2 separate regions of the Homo sapiens genome follow, and region 1 is linked to region 2. Evidence: fine-mapped expression QTL. A gene starts in region 2. The other region holds a variant in brackets. All regions are shown on one strand. Distances are from middle to middle. Region 1 overlaps CREB5 (cAMP responsive element binding protein 5). Region 2 holds the start of CREB5 (cAMP responsive element binding protein 5).

Region 1 (12,200 bases), 270 kb before region 2:
AGGGCTCACCAAGGGAAACATGTGAGGGCGAGGAGGAAGAATGTGAGTTCAGCATCGACTATGGTGATGCTTAGGCATGGACAGCTGGCACTGTTCTGCTCTGTGTCTGGTGGGCAGAGGGAAGAGATTGATGCCTCTTCTGTTGCTTAGCAAAGCCATCTCTCCTCCTCCACCTGCTCACCTGTGGAGCACAGCCCCAGGGACCCCTGTGGAAGGCAAAGCCCATGGACAGGCCATGTCCAAGGGAAGGTAAAACACAGTCACTGTCACCAAGACTCCCCAACTGGGTATTTGATGACTTCCACTGACAGGCAAGGGCATTAGACCCCTTCCCTTACCAAGTCAGGATGGTGATGGAAAGTTTGTTGGTGATGGTGAGCTAGACCTAGAGTGAACTGGACTCCAATTGCCAGAACTTATATGTACTTGGGTAAGCCTGACTCTCAGTTTTTACATTGACAAAAACAACACACACACACACACACACACACACACACACACACACCAAATACAAGTAAAATGGGAGAATTCACAGCCCATAAACTTTTCTAAGAGATCCTGCACATCCTTCAGATTCATGAAATGGTGTCAAAAATGCAGCAGACACAGGCTTTTGTGCTTCAGTTGCTCGCAAGGAGCAGAACAGTATTTTTAATAAATTTATTCCCCCAAAGATTGCATGACTACTTGATAAGTTTCTATAATTTTAACATAAACTTGAGTTTTTAAAGGAGATTTAAGGCTGCATTTGAAAACCTTCAGAAATCATGAAAGGCAAAACTGTATGTGCTTGTTCATACAGGAACGCAGAACAGGATCAATGGATTGTAACAGTGTCCATATTTTGATTGTAGTAATGTACTACAACAGTTTTGCAAGATGTTACCATTGAGGGTAACTGGGCAAAGAATACATGGGAATCTCTCCATATTATTATTATTATTATTAAGACAGAGTCTCGCTTTGTCGCCCAGGCTGGAGTACAGTGGCTCGATCTCGGCTTACTGCAAGCTCCGCCTCCCAGGTTCACACCATTCTCCTGCCTCAGCCTCCTGAGTAGCTGGGGCTACAGGTGTCCGCCATCACTCCTGGCTAATTTTTTGTATTTTTAGTAGAGACGGGGTTTCACCATTTTAGCCAGGATGGTCTCGATCTCCTGACCCACCCACCTCGGCCTCCCAAAGTGCTGGGATTACAGGCGTGAGCCACTGCGCTCGGCCCTCTCCATATTATTTCTTATGAATGCATGTAAATGTATACTTATCTGAATAAAAATTTTTAATTAAAAACCAAAAATCAAAACAAAAACCATGAAACAGAACAAAATAGTCGTCAAACAGTGGAATTAATAATTTTTAGCCCTCTGGGTTACCGTGGGTAAGTGTAATGAGCTGAGATCATGTAAGTGCAACCTGGTATCACAGCCGGCATGGAGAGGCCACAGCCAGGCTAGTGCTCCTGGCCTTGTCTCTGTCAGTCACAAGCAGAGCATTACTGAATATGAGTGAACAATTCGGAGCCAAGTCGACATAAATTGTAATGCTCTAAAAAAAGAAATCATGCCCTCTTTATTCCTGAAGAGTCCCAAGCATACACTTGGCACTCATCAAACTATGCACAATGACTAATAATCTTCACCACTGGTTTCATTTTAGCTCTGGGTAATTTCTTCCCACAGATAGGCATAGTTAAGGTCCTTCCCTGTGCGCAATTGAGCTGGGCCATAAGTACATAACTACATACTTTACAATAAGGCTACTACCCCGGATACATAAATATATACTTTATAATAAGGCTACTACCCTGGAATTTGCCTGAAGAATAGGAGTATTGTCTGGAAAATTATCTAACAAGCACATACGGTTTTGCTTTTCATGATCTTTGAAGGTTTTCAAATGTAGCCTTAAATCTCCTTTAAAAACTTGAGTTTATGTTAAAAATACAGAAACTTATCAAGTAGTCATGCAATCTTTGGGGGAATAAATTCATTGAAAATACTGTTCTGCTCCATGTGAGCAACTGAAGCACAAGGGTCTGTGTCTGCTGCATTTTTGGCACCATTTCATGAATCTGAAGGATGTGCGGGATCTTTTAGAAAAGTTTCTGGGCAGGTGAATTCTCCCCCTTGTCTACTCTGCCACTCTTTTTGGCAGTCTCACCTAGGTAATTTATCTCATTGAGGTCTCCTCAAAGGTAGCATTTGAAAACTAAAAAGTTTACCATGTTTGTTTTTTTGCCAAAAAGCAAGAAGTAAACAAATAAAGATCAAACTTCAAAGTGGGGAAAGATATACTCCTGTCCATCCTCCCCCATTCATTTCAAGTACTAATTCATCCTGAATTTCAAATGTACTTTTCTCTGAAAAGCTATGCTAAATACTCTGTAGCAAACTTTTGTATAGAACATGGATATAAACATAGAACTTTCGAGTGGAAAGAGACTCCAGAGATCATCTAAGATTGGTTCCCCATGCGGGGAGGAGCTTCTAGCCCACCTTGCCCTTTCCTGCTCTTTAGAGTAGTGCCCAGATGGTTTAAGTGATTTGCTCAAGGTCAAGCATCAGAATCAACACTCAGGCCTCCTCACACATCATGCTACTTCCTCCAAAAATTACTTCTCCCCTCTGCTCCCCACTTCCACCTCTGCCCAAAAAAGGAGGAAAGAGAGAAGATCCATAAAGTCATAATGAATGATATCCAAAACATGCGTTAAATAAATAGACACCTTTCTGGTATGTGCCGCATGCCTCAATATGCATCCAGCTGTAGGATGATCACGTCTAAATAAGCCCAAGAGAAGTTTTGAAGTTCCCAGAATGAGAAAGTGTTTGCCCTCTTGTTTTAGTGGGTTTCAGTTTATTACTATCTAGTAATGCCGGATGGTGTCAGAAAGCACCCAACTCAGGCAGCATATCACAATACGAAATCTATTCTATGAAACAGAAATGTGGTAATAATTTTCAAAACATCAAAGTCTCTCTCTCTGAGTACACGAGATCCTTAAAACATTAAGAACACAATCCTTTGCCCCCTCTCCCTGTATTTCCTGTTAATTTCTTACTCTGAAATATTAACTGTTTCTAAGACAACTCAATCAAGAAGTCTTCATCATCGCCCCCTCACTACTGAAGCATATCATCTAAAAAATTAATTCAAGAACATAAAAGTCTTAAAGATAGCACCGGATTAATTAGCACGTGGAACAACAGAATGTCAACATGCTCAAGCAAATGCACAATTGCTGTTAACCTTCACTGAAATAATAGGGGAAAGGCTATAACTACTTTTGAGGATCATCATCTATTACTTTTAAAAGCTGCAGTATATTCTTAATAATAAATGGAACAGCACAATCATTCACTTTTCATACAACACACAGTTTTCCAGTCATTTACAATTCACCAGTTACACTCAAAAATCGCCCCCCCAACCCCCCAACCAACCACCACACCATCACTTCCACCTTTTATGAAAAGACAACAGTTTTAAGCCATTTAAAAAACAGAGAGAGAGAATCCTGGCAGAAAATAATACACAGCTGTGATAATATCGTGTTATTTTAAAATACCATAATATAGTTTTACTTTTAATAATAAAAGATAAAAAAGGAGCGTCTGTGAATAATTAGAGATTGCAGTCTGAAGCCGGTTACAGTCACTGCAATTGATAATAAACTGAAAACCCCTTGAGAGCAGGTAAATGCTTTGCAACCCTGACCCCCTCGCTCTCACATTACTTAACTACCCTTCGGTTCTTGCATTACATCACCATTCAAGCGATTGGTTCCTGCATTTTAACTCTCTCCCTGTCTCCTCCGATTAGGAGCGACACCGCAGCAAAGAAACTTCGCCCGAGTTTGCTCTTTCTCGCTTCGCTCTTTATTTGTGGCCCTTTTGCTCTGGTTGCTTTGGTTTGCTCTGCTTTTTTTTTTTTTTCTTTTTTCCTCCAACCCGGCCTCTGTTCAACTCATTCAGGTCTCTGTGCTAGAACAAAAACTCTGATCGAAGTGAAAAGAAATGCCTCTTCGGGCAAGAAGAGGAGCGGAGGGGCTGGGGAAAGAGGAGAAGGAAGAAGAGGAGAAACAAAGACGGGCAGAAAGGGAGAAGGGGGAGAAAATGAAGAGGAGGAGGAGGAGGACGAAGGCTCAAAAACAGAAGGCAGTAGGGGCAAAAAAAATCTATAAAATCAGGAGAAAAGAAAATAAAATTAAAAACAAACCTCATGGACATCACTGAGGCTGAATTCCCTCCTGAGGTGCAGAACATGAGAGCTCTGGAATGAGTGTGTGTAGAATTTGAGCCAAAGCTTAACTAGCTTGAGTGAGTCATATCCTTCCCATTTGATTCCAGGCCAAGCGATGATGTAATGTGCTGGCCCTTCTTTTGCGCCTAGCTCTGGCTCTCCCTCCGGCTGGGCTCTCGCTCACTTGCTCTCTTTCTCCTGGTCTCGCCCTCCTCCCCCTTCTCCTTTTTAGCTCAGTGCTAGTGAAGTCACCACTTAAATCTGGCAGAACTGAAGCAAAAACTTCAATGTAACCAAAACAGCCCCAGGCTGAGTTCCAGGCTCGGAGAGCCTTCGTGGTGCACTTGCCCTTAGAAACGGGTAAACAAAGGGGGAAACAGTGCCGCTGGGGATGGCCCTACAGCTGCCATCAGAGAGCTCCAAGAGGGACCCGGAGTTCTGCAGGCAGGGGTCAGCTGGTTCTGCTGGAAACAAAAAAAAAATACTGGTTAAAAAAAAAAAAAAAAAAGAGTGCCCTGTGTTTGGAGAAAGGGAAATAACATCAAGACACGTGTAGAGATGGGGAAGCAGGGAGTGAAAGATGGCAGGTTGGAAGGTCTGAGTGTGAAAAACTAACCTCAGTTAGCAGCTTGGGCTTTGGTTCAGAACCAGGTGACAGGGTTTCCATCGCCCAGGGCCCTTTTTTCCTGGAGCTGGATGGGATTTTCTGTTGCTGAATGCCAACCACCAGCCCTCCGGAGACTTCTCGCATCTGACCTCCCTGTCAGCGAGGGCAAAACCACTTCTGGTCCAAACACGTGCCCGTGTCTGGAGCCACCAAGGGCTGTGAAATCACAGTCACTTCTCCCTTGGCCCCTATGGGTCACCCTGTCAGGTGCTAAAGGAAAAAGACCCCAGCCACAAAACACAAAACTTGCCTTTCTGAGATTAGCACTCCACCCTCAGGTGAACCTTCCAAAGGAGAGGGAAGGAAGACAAGTTCTCCCTTAAAATGAAAGACAGGCTGTGCCCCCACAACTCAACTCGCTGGAGGGGGTGCTGGTGTGGGTGGGGCCGTCTGTGACTTTAAAGAGGAGAACAGACAGTATGTGTGTCTCTTTTTTAATTACAGAGTGAGGAAAAACAGCCTGGGGAGGTGGGGGCAGTCAAGCATGATCCTTCACAAATGACAGTGAAGCCTTTTTAATGGCTGAATTCTACCCCTCACTTCACACCTCCCCACTCAGGGCTCCACCACGACAATGACAACAGTCCAGACACTACTCTATTAGCAGGGCTTTTTAACCCCATCATCTCTCCGTTTTGCTATTTCTCCCCACACTTCATGTTTCCTTCAAAAAGAAAAAAGTAACATGAAAATGGGAAGTTCGCTAGAATTTTTTTTAAATACCACAAAAGCAGAAGAAAGGCATGAAGCTGCAATTTTTTTTTCCTTTTCCAAAAATGA[C/T]CATGGCTTGTGCTACAGTCTATTGCCCCTAATGCCTTTTGTGGCCAATGAATCAGGTAGATAAGACAAACATTGTCTCTGCACGTTGCAAAGCACAGAGGATCTTGACTTCTAAACTGTGTTTTTGGAGAAATCTCTCAGCTTATTAAAGACGTCCACTGATGGAGGTCAGGGATATTCATCTGAATCCCCTGGAATTTAAATCACAGCTTCAGGGAGTGTTGCCGTACTCAGGGTGAAGAGTTAAAAAGCAATATTTGCCCAAGGGTCTCCAGGACCCTGGGGGTTGGGGTGGGGAAGTGCTTTCTCCAGCAAGCTGCCCTTTGGCTTGACATCCTCAATTGATGCTGATGCCACAGTAGCTCCGAGTGACACCTTTATCAAGGCAGGCAGCTCTGAATTAGAGGTGATCAGCCATAATTACAGCTGGCGCCACTGAAGCCTGTGGCCTGACAGCGGCAAATGTGGTTGTTATAAAGTTTGGTCCACCATGTCAGTGGCCTGTATAACTCATTTACGTCTGACTTGCCAAGCAGACATTGATTTTTCTTCTGCTAAGGGGAATAAATAAAACAAAATTTTCAATAACTTCTACAAGCCTTTACACTTCAAGGCAGGTTGGCAAGATTTTGCATAAGCTACTTTTTCCTTTTTAAATGAGCCATTGACCATCTTGGTTAATATCAAGCTATGGACTTTCACTTTCCCTTCCCTACCCCCCAAATCTCCCCTCCCCACTTTAGTTTTCTTATTTAAATGTTTTATTTATGTTACTATTTTTGGTGCAAAATGGATATGTGGTAGAGTTTTCCAAATTTACATCTTTTTGTAAGCTCAATGGGAAAATGTTCTCTGTAGGATTTTCCTTATACCACATTAGAGGGCCGGGGTGAATCCACTAGATACCAGGCTTCTGCTGTTTTTCAGTGACATAGGCAAAAGGGACCCTGTGCTTTAAATAGAGGTGATGTAAAGATGGCTTTCCTGTGCCTTGCTTGGGAAGTAACAAAGGAGATGATAGCTTCAGCCAATGCCGGGCACGGATCTCAGATGAGACCCGCCAGCATCATTGCTTCTGCCAGGAGGAGTAAGAGAACAAGAGGTTTGAAGGTGGCCAGTGTGCCTCTGATCAGGGAGTGACATCGCCAATGGGTACAGTGTTTCTAAAACCCAGACAAATGCCAAGGACCCAGAAATGTCTGGGTCTGATGATGACGCCGTTAAGCCACCAACGTGCCAGAACACTTCGACATCCCAATAAAACAACTTTGGAGTGCTGGCCTGAATTGAAATCAATTTCAGAGTTCAAAGGTCTGCATATTTACATTTGCACTTGTTGTTCGGGACATAACTATTCCCTCCTGCCCCTTCCAAATCAGGCATTCCACTGGCTGCTGGGTGCCTCCCCACTTGAAAAGAAGCCCTACTTTCCCATTTTCCTTCCTGTGAGCAGCTAAAGAGAGACAAGATCCTGTTCCCAAAAAGAAATGCCCCTCTGACTCAAGAGATTCCTTTTTCACCCATTTGGCCTTCTCCCCTACCCCATGTCCTAGCTGCTCCTCTGAAGAAGGGGGGCTTCGTAGATAGAAGTCATAAGATGCTGTAATTCCAGAGGGAGGCTTCTTAGAAGTAGCCCCCGGCCAACAGGCTAGGTCTCCAGATTAGCTGGCTTGCTCAGGAATGCTTACAACACCCTCCTTTGCAGAGCGTGTCATCCTTGGGGAGAGGGTGGTGGGTACCGCGCAGCTGTTCGGTGTAACTCACTCACACACTCCCAGCCCCTGATGAAATGTTCGGCTCCGAAGAAGTGGAAACCTTTGAGATTTGAGCTCAGAGTTCAGAATGCTTTTGGACTCTTTCCAAATAACCCAATAGAAAAGGCACAACTTGGATTGCAGGGATGGAGGGGCTCAACAGCCAACTAGAGTAGACCTTTTGTGTGCCTGGGTGAATTTCTGAGCTCAAACACGTTATGAGAAACATAGCAAATATGAGAAACAATGGAGATCCTTCCTAGAGAGAGCTGGGGTTTCCCCCCCCCCCCACTTTTAGGTTTGAATTTATTCTCCTCAAGGAAAAGTATATCATCTTCTTTCAAATGTTGTTTTTAAAATTTAACCCAAGATTTCTACAGTCCCGGTGGAGTTTGAGGGGCCAGATAATTTCAGAGTTAAATAAGCTGTAATGACTATCACATGTACCCAGCCATAAACCTAGTATTAAAAATTATTCAGAAAAAAGTGGCATCTCTTCCTTTTTTAATTTACAATAACCATCCAGGTGGTTTTCTAAGTCCTCCTTTGCAAATTGCTTCCAGTGAACCCTCTGGTCACAGACCACTGCACACCCACATGGTGTCATTCAGCATTCCCTTCGACCTGGGTGTCCCGTGTTTTCACAGTGGACAGAGGATGAGGGGCCGCCTAGGTGACCTGGTGCAGCATGCATCCTGAACCATGTGCAGGCAGGATTCACTGGCTTAAATTGTCAGCCCTGCTGAAGTCAGCTCCAGGTGCTCCCAGAGAGAAGACAAGGGAGTGATCTGCCCTTGGTGACTCCTGTCGTGTAACTACTGCACCTCCTATACCCCAACCCTGGCACTAAGTACCCTTAGGCAATTCACTGGCCTTTCCTGTGTCAAAACCTATTTGTAATTCACGGATGTGGCAATGCTGAATGTGTCTCAAACAAAGGAATGAATTTATAATGGTGGAGGCATCAGGAAACCTTTGGGGGTGGATATTAAGAGGTCACAAGAGCCATTTGATTAGCCCTAAAATATTGTCATCAATTCTGCTTCCTATAGTGTTTTTTCTCTAACTTCTTAAAATGTGCAAGTCATTGTACCACTTAAACCTAAACCAATGTCTGAAAGACCGTTGACACTCCTGGAATATTTGTTGAATAAATGAATGAGTGAATGAATGAATACAATCCTCAGCTCAGGCATTATCTTTTCCATGGTCTCCTTGCTGGGCTACCAGACTGGGATAAGGGTGGCCATTACTCTGTGCTCCTTTGGCGTCCTGAAGCAGATTGTATCCCAGCAATAAGCCAGCTATGGAGAGGATCTCTTCATGCTTGTCTTCTTCAGCAGCCATTTGCTTCTCCAGGGCAGAGACTGTGCTATACATCTTCATTTCCCTAGCACCTAGCACCTGGCCCATACATAGTAGGTCCCTAAGAAATGTGACTGGGACTGGGCGTGGTGGCATACATCTATAGTCCTGCTACTGGGGCTGAGGTGGAGGATCACTTGAGCCCAGGAGTTCAAGACTACAGTGAGGCATGATCGCACCACTGCACTCCAGGCTGGGAGACAGAGCAAGATTCTGTCTCTAATAATGATAATGATAATAATAGTAATAAATTAATTAAAGAAAAAGAAATGTAACTGAGCCTGAACTAGCGGCAACACAGGCTGCTCGGTCTTCCCTGAATATGTTGCCTCCTGAAAGTTCTTTTTCCTGTTTGTATTATTGCTCACACTTTTTATGCAGCTTCCTAAAGATCTGAAGCATCTAGAAAACCTATAATAAGAAAATCCTAGGAAATCTACTAGTCAGCCTTCTCCATCCCTACACTATACCTTTTCTCCCTGGAGGGCCTCAGATTCCTCTTGCTCCCTTTTTTTGGACCCCCACAGCAGGGATGGCAGAATGAGCACTCTGTGGTGGATGTCAGAGCAGCTGATCCTAGACTATTGTCACCAGCTTCCTACATGAGGCACCCAGGGAAATTGGAACTTGAGGTGAGAGCAGCTAAATATTCTCCTGTTGGGACTTCTTGCACAGTTGTTGAGGTGCCCTAAAAAAGGAGACACTGCCACCAGGACTTTATCATGTCCAAAGAAAGGTGATGTCAGTTCTAACCAATCTCTATGACTAGAGTGGGCACTACAGGAAGAACTCAAATAATGGTGGGGGAACAGGAGGTCCAATTTTTTTTTTTTTTTTTTGAGATAGGTTGATACAGTGTCTTGTTCTGTTGCCTAGGCTGGAGTGCAGTGGCATGATTTCAGTTCACTGTAGCCTTGACCTCCTGGGCTCAAATGATTCCCCCACCTCGGCCTTCTGAGTAGCTGGAACTACAGGTGTGCACCACCATGCTTGGCTAATTTTGTTTACATTTTGTAGAGACAAAGTCTCCCTATGTTGCCTGGGCTGGTCTTGAACTCTTGGACCCAAGTGATCTTCCCAGCTTGGCCTTCCAAAGTGCTGGGATTACAGGTGTGAGCCATAGTGCTCGGCCAAGGAGGTCCAAACTTTTGTGGGTAAAAGTTTATACGGGATTGGAGCCTAATGATGTTGTCAGACTAACTACACTGATTCATGTTCTGGTGTTGAGTGGAGCCAAGACAAGGCATAGTAGCTGATCAAGACTGGCTCAGAGCAGTTATGCTTGGGAGAGGTGGACAACCCAACTGATGATGTCCAAGAAAGAGGCCTTTCCTGGAGGCTCTGTGGGGAACCTTGGTTAAAGGAGATTATCAACCAAATTCCTACTTTCCCCTTTGACCAAGGGTGGTGACTGGACCAGTCCAGGTTGAAGCAAGTGAGGTGCCTAGGGTGCAAAATTTAAGGAGGTACTCACTCTCAGGTGCAGGTCTGCAATTGTCCAACCCTGAGAATAATTGCCCCCTTAAATGTTGAGCCATAGGGGGCTCATTTGTGCCCCTTAGTCCCAGCCTCGTTTGGAGATAATTTTCTACTCTGTGTACTCATGAGCATGGGTAGGGTTAGTAGAAAAATATCAGGTGAAGCTCTGGGCCTGCCTGGCTCTTTGGGGAGATGGAGAATGATGCCTGCAACAGACTAGACTCTTCCTTAGTGTCAGCTTTCATCAGCCTTTCCTTCTTCTCAATTAGCCACTGTGAGCTGAGAGCTGAACTAAAAGTTGTCTGATACCAAAGTTGGGAATGCGACCATTCGCTGTTTTGTACTGATACACTAACACCTTTTATAATCCAGGTGTTCCTCATGACCTGGGTTAATCCATGTGTCCAGAAGCAAGCACTGTTACCGGCCCTGGAATCAGGAGAGGCAATGTGGGAAGACAACCATCTTAGGAACATCATGATTCTGACCAGGAAGATTTTCCAAGGGATGAGGGTTGGAGTAGAGGCAGAGAAGAACAGAGCATTTTTGTGGCATAACATCAAAAAGTAAGAAATGTAGAAGGCCACTTCCCTCGGGTCCTAAGAAGGCCTTACACTGCTCACCTGGTCTTCGTCCCCTCCCTTTTACACCCTGAAATCTCATCAGGGCCCACACTCTGAGCCAAACTTGCAAAGTAAATGCCTGCCTCTTTCCTGGAACCCCTAAGCCACTGGTTTCCAAGGCTGCCCTGGTGGGTCTCCCCATTTCACAGAGAGGAAAACTTGGGGCTGCCAGAAGCTGACCATCATTTGCTGAGAATTTTTATCTGGAAAAGCAGTTCATGGGGACTTTCATAATCAGTGGAAAAATGTTGTCCCTTTGCACATGATAAGTTCAAAACACTGCAGTATCTGCTTTCTGAATATTCTCCCTCTGTCTCCCCTCAGCACTTTGCAATTCCACATAAAGGCCCTCAGAAAAGGATTACTTACGTATCTGCAGGATAACCCTGAAAATATACTCCGCTGGCTGTTTTCATTGTTAAAACATGCTTAAATGAAAAAAAAAAAAAAAAAGAACTACAAAAGTAAAAATGAGTTTGAAGAGGTTTTGAAGGTATTAGAAATAAAAAGGCAAGCTTAAACTAAGGAATTGTATTTGTGGTTTCATTTCTTTCCACAAGGATTCCAGCTGTAGAGCTCTGTGTCTATCTAATAACTGACCTTCTCTTACACTGAGCAGAGAAGTTCACCAGCACTGATTTATTAAGAGGGTTTCTGCAAGGAGAATTCGCCCTCCAACACTTTTGCCCGGAGGGGATGAGAAGAATTTTTTTTAAACCCCAAACATGAAGCTCTTGGGTCTTCCAAATGAAATTATCTATGTTTTTATTAACTGGGCCCCTGAGTTAAAAAGTTGGTTTTGATAAGGGTGAATAAATGAAAGAGAAAACTGCTGACATAATATTTTGGTTTCCAAACCCACTTCCACATTCTACTGTCCCTCTCAGGCCCATACATGACTGTGGTTTCTCTATTTACACCAGAATCCTGGAGAGAAAGGTGCAGTTAATCCTGCTTTATGGTAAAATTCATCTCTAAACTTTAATAAAATGATCATAGTGACTCTTTTAAATGCTTTGGTATAAGTTTTGATTTTTCTAGACATGGAGTACTATATGATTTATAAATAATGCAGGCTTGTATTTTCCTTTTATTTTTATTTTTATTTTTATTTTTTTTGAGCAGAGTCTCACTCTGTCGCCCAGGCTGGAGTGTAGTGGTGCCGTCTTGGCTCACTGCAACCTCCACCTCCGGGGTTCAAGCAATTCTCCCACCTCAGCCTCCCAAGTGCCTGGGGCTACAGGCGCACACCACCACACCCAGCTAATTTTTGCATTCTTAGTAGGGACGG
Region 2 (12,200 bases):
TGGAAGCAACCCAAAGCAGTGCTTCTATCTGGAATATCTGGAATACATGGCACTAATAAATGTGAGCTCTTTTCTCATACCGACCACCCATCTAATCAATGAGCAGGATGCCTAGCCTTGGCAATCTCTTAGTTTTCCCATCTATAAAATGGGGATTAGAGATATGTGTTAATAAATGAAAGCTAACATTCTTCCAATGAATGACATTACAGAAAACACAAATATCACCACAAAATGTAGAAAAACATGTAATTTTATATTTAAAACTAGTTTATAGTCATGCTTTAAAGGCGATATGGTTGAATAGACATGTATTTGGACATAGATGGCTCTGCAGGGGATAAGGAGAGAGAGGGTCAGAGTGAAATGACTCATGAATTTGGGGATGCAGAGGCTCTCTGCAGCATGAAGTCACAAGAGGCTGACACCAAGGTCTCTCCTCCCCTCCACAAACAATTCTGTCTGTAGACTTCACAAGAAGGTGCGTGAGGAGTTTGGAAATTATTTTTTATTTTATACTTTTTGCATCCTTTAGTGAATGCACAGACTGGTGTATTATAAAAAACAGGTATATTAAAATAAAGCATTCTGATGTGCATTGAAAAACATTGATTCTTCTAATATTTTAAAAGGTGACAAATAAAAATGAATACCTTAAGTCTAGGAGGTTATAACTAACATCTTGACATGAGAAAATCTGGTCTAGGCAATAACACAAGTTTGTTAAAAGCTTGGAAGGAAGAAAATTCTGGGGGATCCAGATGTCTCAACTGGAGTAAAAATTTCCCTCCCCAAACAACTAAAGGCAAGTATCTGGGGCAAAAGAGTAAGCTGGCAAAATACTGTAACTGAAATGTGAGAATCCTGACCTTTTCCGAAACAGAGGGTTTCTACGAGGTTACATGTAAATCAAATCCTAAATTAAGATTTCTAGTGAAGCAGACCATTTAAAACACCCACGTTTGAAAGTTACACAAAACAGAGCCCATTTGTGGTGCAAAGAATTATTGTCTAAGTTATTCATTCTGTAAATTTTAATCTTTATCAGTTATATTTTCTTAAATATGTGTTGCAGGGTGCAGCATGCTTGTAACAACTGCTTGCTGCCCTTGAACTCTGAATGAACGCTTTACTGCAATCCCTTTCCTGAAATAGAATCATAGAATATTAGAGTAGAAGATTCCTTAGAGATCAGTTAGAACCGTGGTTCTCAACCTCTGCTACACATTGGAAACACTTGTGGAGCTTTTAAAATATACAGAGGCTCAGGCCTTCACCCCAAACCAATTAAATCAGAATGTCAGAGTGGAAGGGTATCAGTGTTTTTTAATAAGTTCCACAGGTGGTACTACTGGGCTGCCAGGATCATAAACCACTGATTTACCCTGTGTTGTCTGATACCATAGTCACCGACCACACGTGGATATTGAGCACTTGAAATGTGGCTAGTCCAAATTGAGATATGTTGTAGTTGTGAAATACACACTGGATTTCAAAGATTTAGTACCAAAAAAAAAAAAAGAGAGAGAAAGAGAGAATGTAAAGTAGTACATTAACATTTTTATATGGATTATATGTTTAAATGATAATATTTTGGATATATCAGGTTAAATCAAAGTGTTATTAAAATGACTTCACCTGTTTCTTTTTAACCTTTTTAATGTGGCTACTAAAACGTTTAAAATGAAATGTGCAGCTCACATTTGCAGCTCTCACTACCGGACAGTGCTGGGTGAGCCCGACATTCTCATCACAAATGAAGAAACTGAGGCAGAGAAGCACAATAAGCTCAAGGCAGCTCTCTGGGAATTGCGTCCCTCCTCCAGTCTCAGGCTGCTCATTGTTGCAGAGCCACGAATGGACAGAGCTTGTTATGCCATCAATCTAATTTCAACTCTTCTTCCCCCCTTTTGTTTTGCTAATTGTTTCTTCTAAGATTTGATATAAAAATCTATTTTCCTTATGGAAAAATATCTCTGCTCTGCTGTGTACACATTTGTGACTTGTTACTGCAGGATTATTCATCAAGGCAGAGTAGTTGAAATGGATGTTAAAGAATGAATCTAGGGAAACACTACCTGAAGGAAAATGCAGAGAATAGACAAAGAGAACATTTTGTCATGCTGTAGTTTAGAAAATGACCCTGGAGGCCCCCAGCGTTCTGACAGTCACCTTCGACACAGGATCATTCCCTGATATGATTTTAGAAGCTTGAGCCTATAATATTGTTTCTCCTCCTAGGAGTCAGTGTTTTTCTGCACAATGTTGTCATTGCAGTGAGGCAAATCAGACCCTTCATGATGGTGCACCACACCATAGCTAGATACCCTGGTGGAAACGGACTTTATCCCAATGCCTTCTACTGTCTGATGCATGAATTAATACCTGGCCAGTCAGAAGCCAACTTACTTAAAGGAGAAGATCTTGTTTTGATAAAGTGAAATGGTCCTACCAGATCTGGCAAATAGAGATTACATGTATTTCTTCTAATAGTCAGCTAATTCAAACAAAAACAAAAATTTTGTTGTTGTTGTTGTTGCATGTATTTTTCCCCCTTAGGAAGCCAACAGAGAGAGGACTGCATAAAACTGGCTGAAATGTGTTCTATTGGAGAAATCATGCCTGCAACACAGGAGCTCCTCAGTGTAATAAAAGAATAAAAAGAGACCTGAATTCTGATATAAAATCGCATGCAAACAGCTGGAGAGGAAACCTGTGGGTGAGGCCAAACAACACATGCAGTAGGTGCATTCAGGATTTCTATTTAGACATTGTTATTCCCCATCTTAAATACAGCACAGACTAAATATCATCTTAAATCAAATGTGTGGTGCTCTAGAGCCCTCTGTGTTGCATGCATGAATTTTTTTGGTTATGATTGGTCAAGTTTTGCCAGTCAAACCTCAAAGAACATACTTCCAGACTCAATTCACTTCTCGTCACCTCCAAACACACTCATATATATCCATCTGGAAAGATAATGTATTACAGACAGATCCTAGGCAAAGGTACACCTTCTAGAGTGAAAACATCACCCGTTTCTCTATTTGACAAAAAAGGTTATTTATTTTAACTTTAAATAATATTTCAGATCCCGTCCTCACAGATAATAGAGAAAAGACAGGTAGTAGAGAAAGTCACTGCCTTGTTCTTGAGACAGTCTTTCAGACCATTTTTAGTCCTGCCTGGTTTTTACTCTCAAATGAAATCTGGATGGTGTGGTTTTACAGGGTATGTCTCATAACAATGATGAAAAAAGGAGAATTTAAGTTAAAATTAATTAAGGAGGCCCTTATTAGAAAAAATAACATTGCAGATATTATATAAGAATGAATGAAATAGAAACTACAGTTTTTATGATTAAGGTGTTCATTCCAAAGATCTGATAAAAATTTGTCTTTGAAAGATTAGTCATCAAAAGGCTTGAAAAGAGTGAAGGATACAAAGTCATAGGTTATGCCCCATTCCTGACAAGGGCATTTATGGCAGGAGCACCCGACCTGGAGGCAGGGACCAGGCTTCTCAGCCTGGTTTGGCTCTCTCTAGCTCTGGGCCTTGGGTGAGCCAGGGGTCTCTTCTGTAAAATGAAAAATTGGTCTATCAATCCGAGGCCCTCCCCTAGCCCTACCATCCGTGTAAAGCCATAAGCCTTTGTAACTCACCATCAGAATCTCTAGGCCTAAAAGAACTCCCTCTAAAATCAGTTCTAGTCAAACGCCAGCCTGGTAGTTTTCAATCCTTGTTAAGGATTGAAATCCTAAAATCTTTTTAGGGTTAAGATCAGAAATGTAACCTTAAGGAAATAGAAGAAAGCAGCTGAAATACATATTTTTAAAGTGATAAACTGATTCTGATCTATTTCTCAGGGGGTGAGGGGGAAGGCAATACAGTGAACTTGGAAAAAAGAAATATTGAAATGTCAATATAATATCTTTTATGGGTTCAAGAATTTATCCTAAACTTTATCTTTTACTGTGACAGTCCCAGAGTCCTCAATAAGAGCTTCAAAAATTTTAGTGGGGTTTCTGGAAGAGTGCTATCACTATCTGGAAATTTCTAAAAGGCTTCTCTCTTTTTATAAAAAAAAAAATTCCTATGTTAAATCTATGATTTGTGATTCTCAACAATGGAATACTAATGGATACTCAAAAAACACTAATTGCTCATTTTTTTCCTAATTACGAAATGTAATAATTCTTTAGTGAAAACATTAAACATGATGTCATTTTTAAAGTGCCAGACTTTGTATTTAAAGCATTGCCACAAAATAGATAGCTTACTTATTTTACAAATAGCAACACAAAAAGGGTCTTCTGTGTCTTTAAGTCTGTTTAGCATATCTGAAAGTGCTTCTTCCTCACACTTAGATATTTAAGGCAATTGCCCCCCAGTTTATTACCTTATCTCAATTGTATAATTTTCTTAAATAGAATTCAGAGAAATAGTCATAGATTTAAATTTTTAAACACTAATTAAGCATTGGTTGATTCCCATAATACAGCTGGTAGTCAAAGTGGACAAGATAATGAATTGACTGAGATCACTGTTCCATCTTCATCCAAGAAAGCTGCCTCTAAAAAAAAAAAAGACCTTAAATTGCTGTAGAAATCCAATTTGTAAGAAGCAAAAGAAGCATATAGATGGGAAACACCAGCCAGGATCACATTAATTTTGTGACTAACTGCATTGCTTAGAAGAAGAAGAAGGAGAAGGAGAAGGAGAAGAAAGAAAAGATGACAAAAATAATAAGTCCACTCAAATCCCAATTTTAATCCAACAACATAACCAGAAGAAAATGAACTACAAATACAAAGTTCACATCTTAGTGATCTAGTGAACACTACACACCGACAAAATAATTTTTAGCTTAGTAAGAAGTAAACTCCAATGACAAGAAAATATTATAGGATTGTGATACCTCATTGCTAAAAAGTAGATTATAGTAAGAAATTGGGAGTCTAGGAACTTGCCATCATGGAAACTCCATGATTGATTGGTTTTGAATGTGCAGGTGTGGGAAACTGACAAATCATTGTAACAAAAATCTTAAACTTACTAGAATTGAAAATCTATGCAGGAAAAGTCTCTGTGACAAACTACCATTCATTTAGCCACCTATTCAAATAAAAGCTGTGACATAACAGAGATCTAGAAATAAGGGCATGGTTTCCAATTTTTTGTTGGAATGTTCTAATAAACTATCTTCTCAGGTATCAACTATATAAGGTCACGACTGACCGCTAATTGACAGGCAATTTATCGGCACCAGCAATTTACATTAAAAATAGTGGGCTTGGAGATATTTTCAAATATGTTTACTATGAGTTAAGTTGAAAAATAAAAACCACTATAATCAGTAAGGATTTAAAAATAAGAGATCCATATAAAATGCTATAAGCAAAGGAAAATGAGAAACATTTCTGGGGAGACACAAGTGAGTTTTATTATACTTCTTCTTTTAAGTTTTAGAACTAAAGTAATAGTTGATATTCAACCCATAGAATCATCCTTCAGGGGCATACACATCTAGGTTTGAATGCGGAAAACTGTTTTATTGTTTTTTTTTAATTTTTAGGTTTCTTTTTCAAGAACTTTCTTATTAAAACTTAAATACTTATTGAAGTGATTCATGAAACCTCACAGAAAGGGGAATTCATGCTTGACACATTACTTAACATGCTCCATAGCTTCCCCACTGTAGTTCATATGCTTCTGAACATATTTTACCTGGGAAATAATAGTCTTATTCACACACACACACACACACACACACACACACACATCCTTCCACATAAAATGCTATAAGTCCCAGGAAACTGACAAAAGCAACATTAAAATTTTGTGCAAAATCTAAACTCCATTTCTGAATTCCATCTATGAAAATACAACATTGGTTCTATTTAACTAAGTGCAAAGTTTTCTCTCTGTTTAATATGCATAATAAACATCATCCTTACCATTATCTGTAGAATAAAAGCAGCAACGTGTTGCTTCCTGCAGTCACCAAATCAAGTTTTTTCTTCCTTTCTTTCTAGTAACTTCTGTTTCACCAGCAAGATTAGGAAGAAAATAAGTCTTGAGTATTTGCCTCAGTATTTCAGACCAGAAGATAGTGAAACTAGCTTTTAGTAAAAAGAACAGGTCTGGTATTTTACAATTACTTCTGCAACCCAGAGGTACCTCCTAGACTCTGGTACCTCCCTCGTTCTCTAAGTTTCTTTTAGTAATGAGACTAATTTTTCCAGTAGTCTTGAACTCCCTAGATTTAACTGACATGGAAAATGTGACTAAAAATTTGTGGAACTGTCTAGCCTCCAACCCTACACAGAATCAACTTTGTTGTAAATGTTGAAGAACACCTCGCAAGCAGCTACATGCTCAGTTTATACTCCTGCGCTACGCAGCAGAGAACACCAAATAACAGTGCGCCATCTAGTTAGCAAGCTGCAATCTCCATGCTAGAAGGGGGGACACTTTCAAACCCTGGGAGTTAAGAACTTGTCAGGGTTCAGCTGCTCTAAAGGTCCAATTGTTTGTTTAAATAAAAAAAAATATCGCTACTGAGATAATCCACATCTAGTGGATATGGGAAAATTTAGGTTATAATGGCACTACAAACTTTTACATCTAACTTTGATTTACAAGATAAAAGCAAGTTTTAAATTAAAAGGGCTTTCTGTTAATAGAGCTTATTATTCTGAAGACGGGAATGATTTTCTTCGAAAGTTGTCCCTGGGTGCATGCCTATTATCTTTGCTTTTCCCCTTCCACTAATGAGCATTTATCTAAAGAGCCTGTTAATCCTCTGATGTGTGCTTCTGGTCAGAGGTAACAGTTTGAATAAAACCACTAATCACTGATCACTAAATCACTGATCATTAATCACACTTTCCAGTGCCCATGACTGGGCCATTTTTTTTCCTTTAAGTCTATGCATCACAAACAAGAAGTTCAACATTTTCGATGCACATATATTGTGTGGAGGTTACACTATTTCATCTCTAGATGTGAATAAATACTAAATCCTGCCACAGACTTGGGGAAGGATGTCAATTAGACCCCAGACAGGAGTTTCACAAATGCCTACCCTACAGCATGGCTTTCGCTTTGAAGAAAGTAGATCTAATTATAAGAAAACATGTGTTCTTCAAGAAATTCCCACATATTTGCAATATAAACTTTTCTTTATTTAGTTTTCACCAACTCCAAATCAGGGACCACTCCAATCCCCTCTCTCCCTCTATCCAAAACTCTGTTAATACTTTTTTAAATTTAATTTCTGCTGCACACCTCCCTCACGCCCCCACCCCCCCACCCCCCACACCGAGGGTTCTTTTTACTTTGATCCCTTGCAACAAGTCATACACAGGGTCTTTATTTCAACTGCCAGATACGGAGGTTCTGACTCAGTTCAATGACTTACGTATTCGACTTCCTCTTTCAACATAGAAACTTAAGGTTAAGAGCTAGAAACTAACGCACGCAGCAATTTATTGTATGGAAGTTTAGGTTCAACGACTCACATTCCCTCACTTTGGAAATGAAACGTTTAGTCTTGATCCTTTCAGCTAAACCTGATTTTGTCAGCATCCCTCTTCTGCTAAAGGGCAGGCACTACGTAAAGTGAAATACTTTGTTTGCAGTGGGTGTATTGCTTTCCTAAGTCACCACCACGAGGACAGAGTATTATCATAACGCTTGCAAACATTTCCTGATTTGCCTTTTCTATCAGGACTAAGCATTTTCGCCCTAGAGGAGAAGGCTTACTGGTGCCTTTCTTAAATAATACAAAAGGGCGGATTGCGCGCTGATCAGGTACAGTGGTCCCCTCAGACCCCAGAAGCTTTTACCCACACTCCAGGGACCGTGCTCGCCCCAGGGAAAGCTGTAAAAAGGCGGGGGCGGGGCTAGAGTGATAACGGTGTAGACGGGGGAGTGGTGGAGAGGGAGGGGCTGGGAAGAGAGGGCAATAAAGATGCCCAGGGAGCCGGCGATTGCACGAGTGTGTTGTGGGGAGGGTAGGGGGATGCAAAGCAGAGTTGCTTTGTCAGCATTCTAAGCTCCTGAACCCTTGAGGAGCTCAAGCCGTTAATCAAACACTTACTGGCCTGCAGAATGACGTAATGGACCTGTATCCAGTCTTTATTCCTTGACACATGTCAGAGAAGGAGGGAAAAATAAAAATCAAACACATTCTGCAGACTGACAACGAAATATACAAGTAGCCCGCTCCAGTCCCCGGCCTTGAGCAAGCATCAAGTGGGGGCGGCACCGGTCCAGGGAAAGTTGGGGATGGGGGTGAGAGTGTGGACAAGGTCTAGGGCTTTATCTACCAGACGCCCCTTAAAAATAAATCTATGGCAAAGAAGAAGCGGGATGCAGCTGCTGAGAGAAAACATCTCCTTGGTTCCTTCCTTCGCATCTTGCCCCTCTAAGAACTTCGTGAAAAGTTCAAGTGATTCTGCCGAGAATCTGCCGCAGGGGGAGACTCCGCCGCCAGGTCTTGGGAATTGCCTGGGCGCCGCCAAAGCTCGAGCCGGAGCTGTCATTTGGGGCAGCGGCCGGGAAGAGGTAACGATGCCAGCAAGAAAGCAGCGGAGGCAGGAGGCGGCCGGAGGAGTGGACTGGAGCGGACGGAGCCTCGCCGCTCTCCAGCCCGGAGCGCCTGGAGCGAAAGCCAAGCGCCCTCCGAGGGCGACCTCCCCTCCCCGGGCGCGCGCCCACCCGCTGCAGCCGGCAGCCCGGCGGGAGAGGTGGCAGCTGCAGCTCCGCACCGGGGAGAGCGAGCCCCCTGCGCGCGCGCCCACCCGCCCCCTAGGTGACCCGGCGTCCTCGCCGCGCCCGCTGGAAGTTTGCAAACTTTCTCCGGGGGTTCCGCCGCCACGCTGGGAAGCTGGGGACGCGGGGGGAGGTTCCTGGCTCGCCGTCTCCGCTGCCGCTTGACCGCACTTCTGGAGGGCTCCGCACCTTGCCAGGTCTCTGGAGGCAAACACACACCCCCGATTCATAACTGGTCCCCGCGTCAGGGGACTCGCGCGCTCCCACACACGCACGCACGCCGGGCGGACTCGGCGCCGGCTCCACGTTAGCATCCCTCCAGGCGCGCGGCGCGGCGGCCACCGAGCGCTCCGGCACTCACGCGGCGCGGGGTCTCTAGGGTGGCCTCAGGACACAGCCGAATTCCACAGTCTACCAGCACTCGGGGCCGGACTTCCCTCTGGTCCGCCAAAATGTTTACAAACACAGATCACCCTCCAGAAAAAAATGCATCGCATCTTCCCTACTCCTTGCCCTGTGACCTGCCCACTGGACCAAGTAACCTCGCGGCTGCTGCCGAGAACCAACCCCTGCAAACAAGTACACTCCCGAGATGGCTCCTGCGGCAAGTGCAACAAAAGTGGCTAAATGCAAAAGCCCCAGAAGTGGCCGAGCCGTATTTTTAGGAACTTACCAAACAAGTGTGGAGAAGGCAAGAGCGGAGCCCGGGTGAAGGGACCACGTTGGACTGAGCAAAGATTACAATACATTCTATTTAGAGTGCATTACATCACCCCCCCGGTGACGTCACGTGGGATTCCTGAACTTCTAAATCATTGCGGTCCGCTGGGGAGGGACGGAGCGAGGGGCGGGGCCGGCGCGTCGAGGGGGCAGGCCCCGCCCCGGTCCCGCCCCGACCCCGCCCCGCCCGCGCGGACCCTGGTGCACCCGCCCGGGAGCGGCAGCGGCGGGGGCGACTGCGCAAGCAACAGCTTGCAGAGCCCAGCGCCGTGTGACACGGCTCCCTGACATTAGTGGTGTGAGTCAGCTTGGAAACAATCCTTATGGTTTCAGACAAGACCACGGAGGAGGCGCGGGCGTGGGCTCTTCTGCGGGGAGGGCCTGATGGGGTTTGAAAGGTGTAGGGATGGGGGTAGGGGAGAGGTGGGGAGGGGGATGCTGAAGGATGTGGGAAAAGACTTTGCAAACAGAAATGCAGGACGCTCCTCCCTCCCCCACCGGAGGATGTCCAGCTCCTTTTTGCTTGCGACAGTCATGACCTCATTTCAGTGCTCCCTGCATCCTGGCTTTTCAGAGCACTCACTTGTCACCCCTTCTTCACCGCCCCCTCATCTCACCTCCTCCAGGAGAATAACTTCCTTATGGTGCACACTCTCATGAAATACACAGCCCCACCCTTCGCGGGACCCCTGCTTCATGCGTCTGAGAAGCTGTAGGGAGAGTTGCTCCTAAGGCGAAAGGTGAATCACAGCTAGAGCCAAGTGATGAGCCTGATTTAGACACGGCGTCAGAGCCGAAAGGGCCCTTGGCTGTCACTTCCAGAGCCTCTTCGGTAACTGGCCCAAGCTCACGGGCTGGGGAGCGGCAGAGCCAGGGCCAGACTGCAGGATCCGGGCGCCTGGTCTGCAGCGAGAGGAGCCTGGCGTCTCCAGTATCCGGCCGTCACCATCACTGTCACCATCCCCCTGCTGAATTTCCTTTCAGAAGTTCTCCCTTTGAGTAGGATTCAAAGAGAAGGCATAGGCTAAATCCAGCCCGATTCTAGACGACCAATGCCAACCTCGCAGCCCCTCACACCTTACAAAGCGCTTGCGACCACGTGATTTCCCTTGTTTCTCACACCAACCCGGGTACCAGAAGTAGGACAGGTATTATAATTATTCCCATTCTACAGGTGAGCTAAGGCAGACACCAGAAGGTTGGGGGCTGGCCTGAGATCACTTGATGAGCAAGGGGTGGCACTGGGCCCAACTCAATCCCTGTTTTCAAGCCCAGATCCCAACTGGGCTCCTTCATAGAGCCAGGGGTAAGCATTCCCTTCTTGTGGGTTATTGGTGGTTGGAACCTCTGCTAAGAACACATTGGCTGGGAGATGGAGCTTTGCTTAGAAACAGTTTAGCCCTCGTTAATAAACAATAATCATTTCTGACATTTATGTAACATCTGACATTTATATAGTACCTCTCATCCCAATGCATCACAACCATGACGGTGCAGTTTGCCAGAGAATCATGACTGGACTGGCTAGAAACTGTAATACATTGCCTGGATTGTCACATACTTCTGAGCTGGTTTTGACATACTAAATGGAAGAGCTTAGCATGTTGTTTCTGTTTTTAAGTGTTTAAGTGGCCCCTTGCCCTTTAGTGTTCCTTGAAACCACAGGGACTGATGACTGTTTGATCCTCACAGCCTTATTCAGAGTTCATCACTGAGTTTTCTACTTATTGTAGAAATAAAATCATTGCAATTTCATGCAAAAGGTTTCTAGCTGTCATATTACAGACTGAGATTTTTACATATTCCAGATCTCACACACACACACAAATCATTTCTAAATGTAAACTGAAGAAAAGAAGAGGTATTTATTAGTGTAGATTCTAGTGTCAGCCTGCCTGAATTCAAATTTTAGCTCTGCTACTTGACGCCTGGTTCTCAGTTGCCTCAACTATGAATGAGGATGGTGATGATAACTACAGCGACTCGAGTTAAGAATTTTATTACTTGAGTTAAGAATTGTGCTTGGGGCCGGGCACGGTGGTTCACACCTGTAATCCCAGCACTTTGGGAGGCCGAGGCAGGTGGATCACCTGAGGTCAGGAGTTCGAGACCAGCCTGACCAACATGGTGAAACGCCCGTCTCTACTGAAAATACAAAAATTAGCTGGGTGTGGTGGTGGGTGCCTGTAATCTCAGCTACTCGAGAGGCTGAGGCAGGAGAATCGCTTGAATCTGGGAGGCGGAGGTTGCAGTGAGCTGAGATCACACCATTGCACTCCAACCTGGGTGACAAGAGCGAAACTCTGTCTCAAAAAAAATAAAAGGAAAAAAGAAAAAAAAGAATTGTGTTTGGCACAGGGCAAGTACTATGGAAGCACTCACTCTCTTTTTATTAATAAAGGTATTTTGGCTAATGCTGTGATAGGTGGGCATTTGGTGATTTTTTTTTTTTTACAAACTTAACTAAATAAATGAAAAGGGAACCTTTACCCCATAATTCCCCCAGCCCCACATTGCCTTCTGCATGTGTCATCTGGACCAAGCAGCCCTCTCATCTGTCAAATGCGCTGGCAGAGCCCCTGTGTTTGTGGACTCACATTTCTGCCTCATGCTCACTCAGTCTCTCCCAGGATTTCTCAGAGCCAGAGTTTCATGGAGGCTGCAGTTGCTGAGAGCAGCTATGCAAGAGCATCTCTAAGGGT

The links.
Region 1: its variant is fine-mapped to the expression of CREB5 in whole blood (TOPMed, PIP above 0.99).

The regions. Positions count from the first base shown.
Region 1 is chr7:28,678,215-28,690,414 of GRCh38, reverse strand. All of the region lies in intron 5 of CREB5 (cAMP responsive element binding protein 5), which reads right to left. Among named protein-coding and RNA genes, the nearest start is that of CREB5, 270 kb to the right of the region's middle. RefSeq lists enhancers at 4,488-4,996, 5,213-5,262 and a silencer at 4,935-5,104. The variant C/T (reference allele first, on the strand shown) is at 5,689.
Region 2 is chr7:28,406,675-28,418,874 of GRCh38, reverse strand. CREB5 (cAMP responsive element binding protein 5) reads right to left here and starts at 6,357. Exons shown (of 11, transcript NM_182898.4): 1 at 5,958-6,357. The coding sequence starts at 5,960. RefSeq lists an enhancer at 6,271-6,360 and silencers at 9,633-9,702, 9,671-9,965.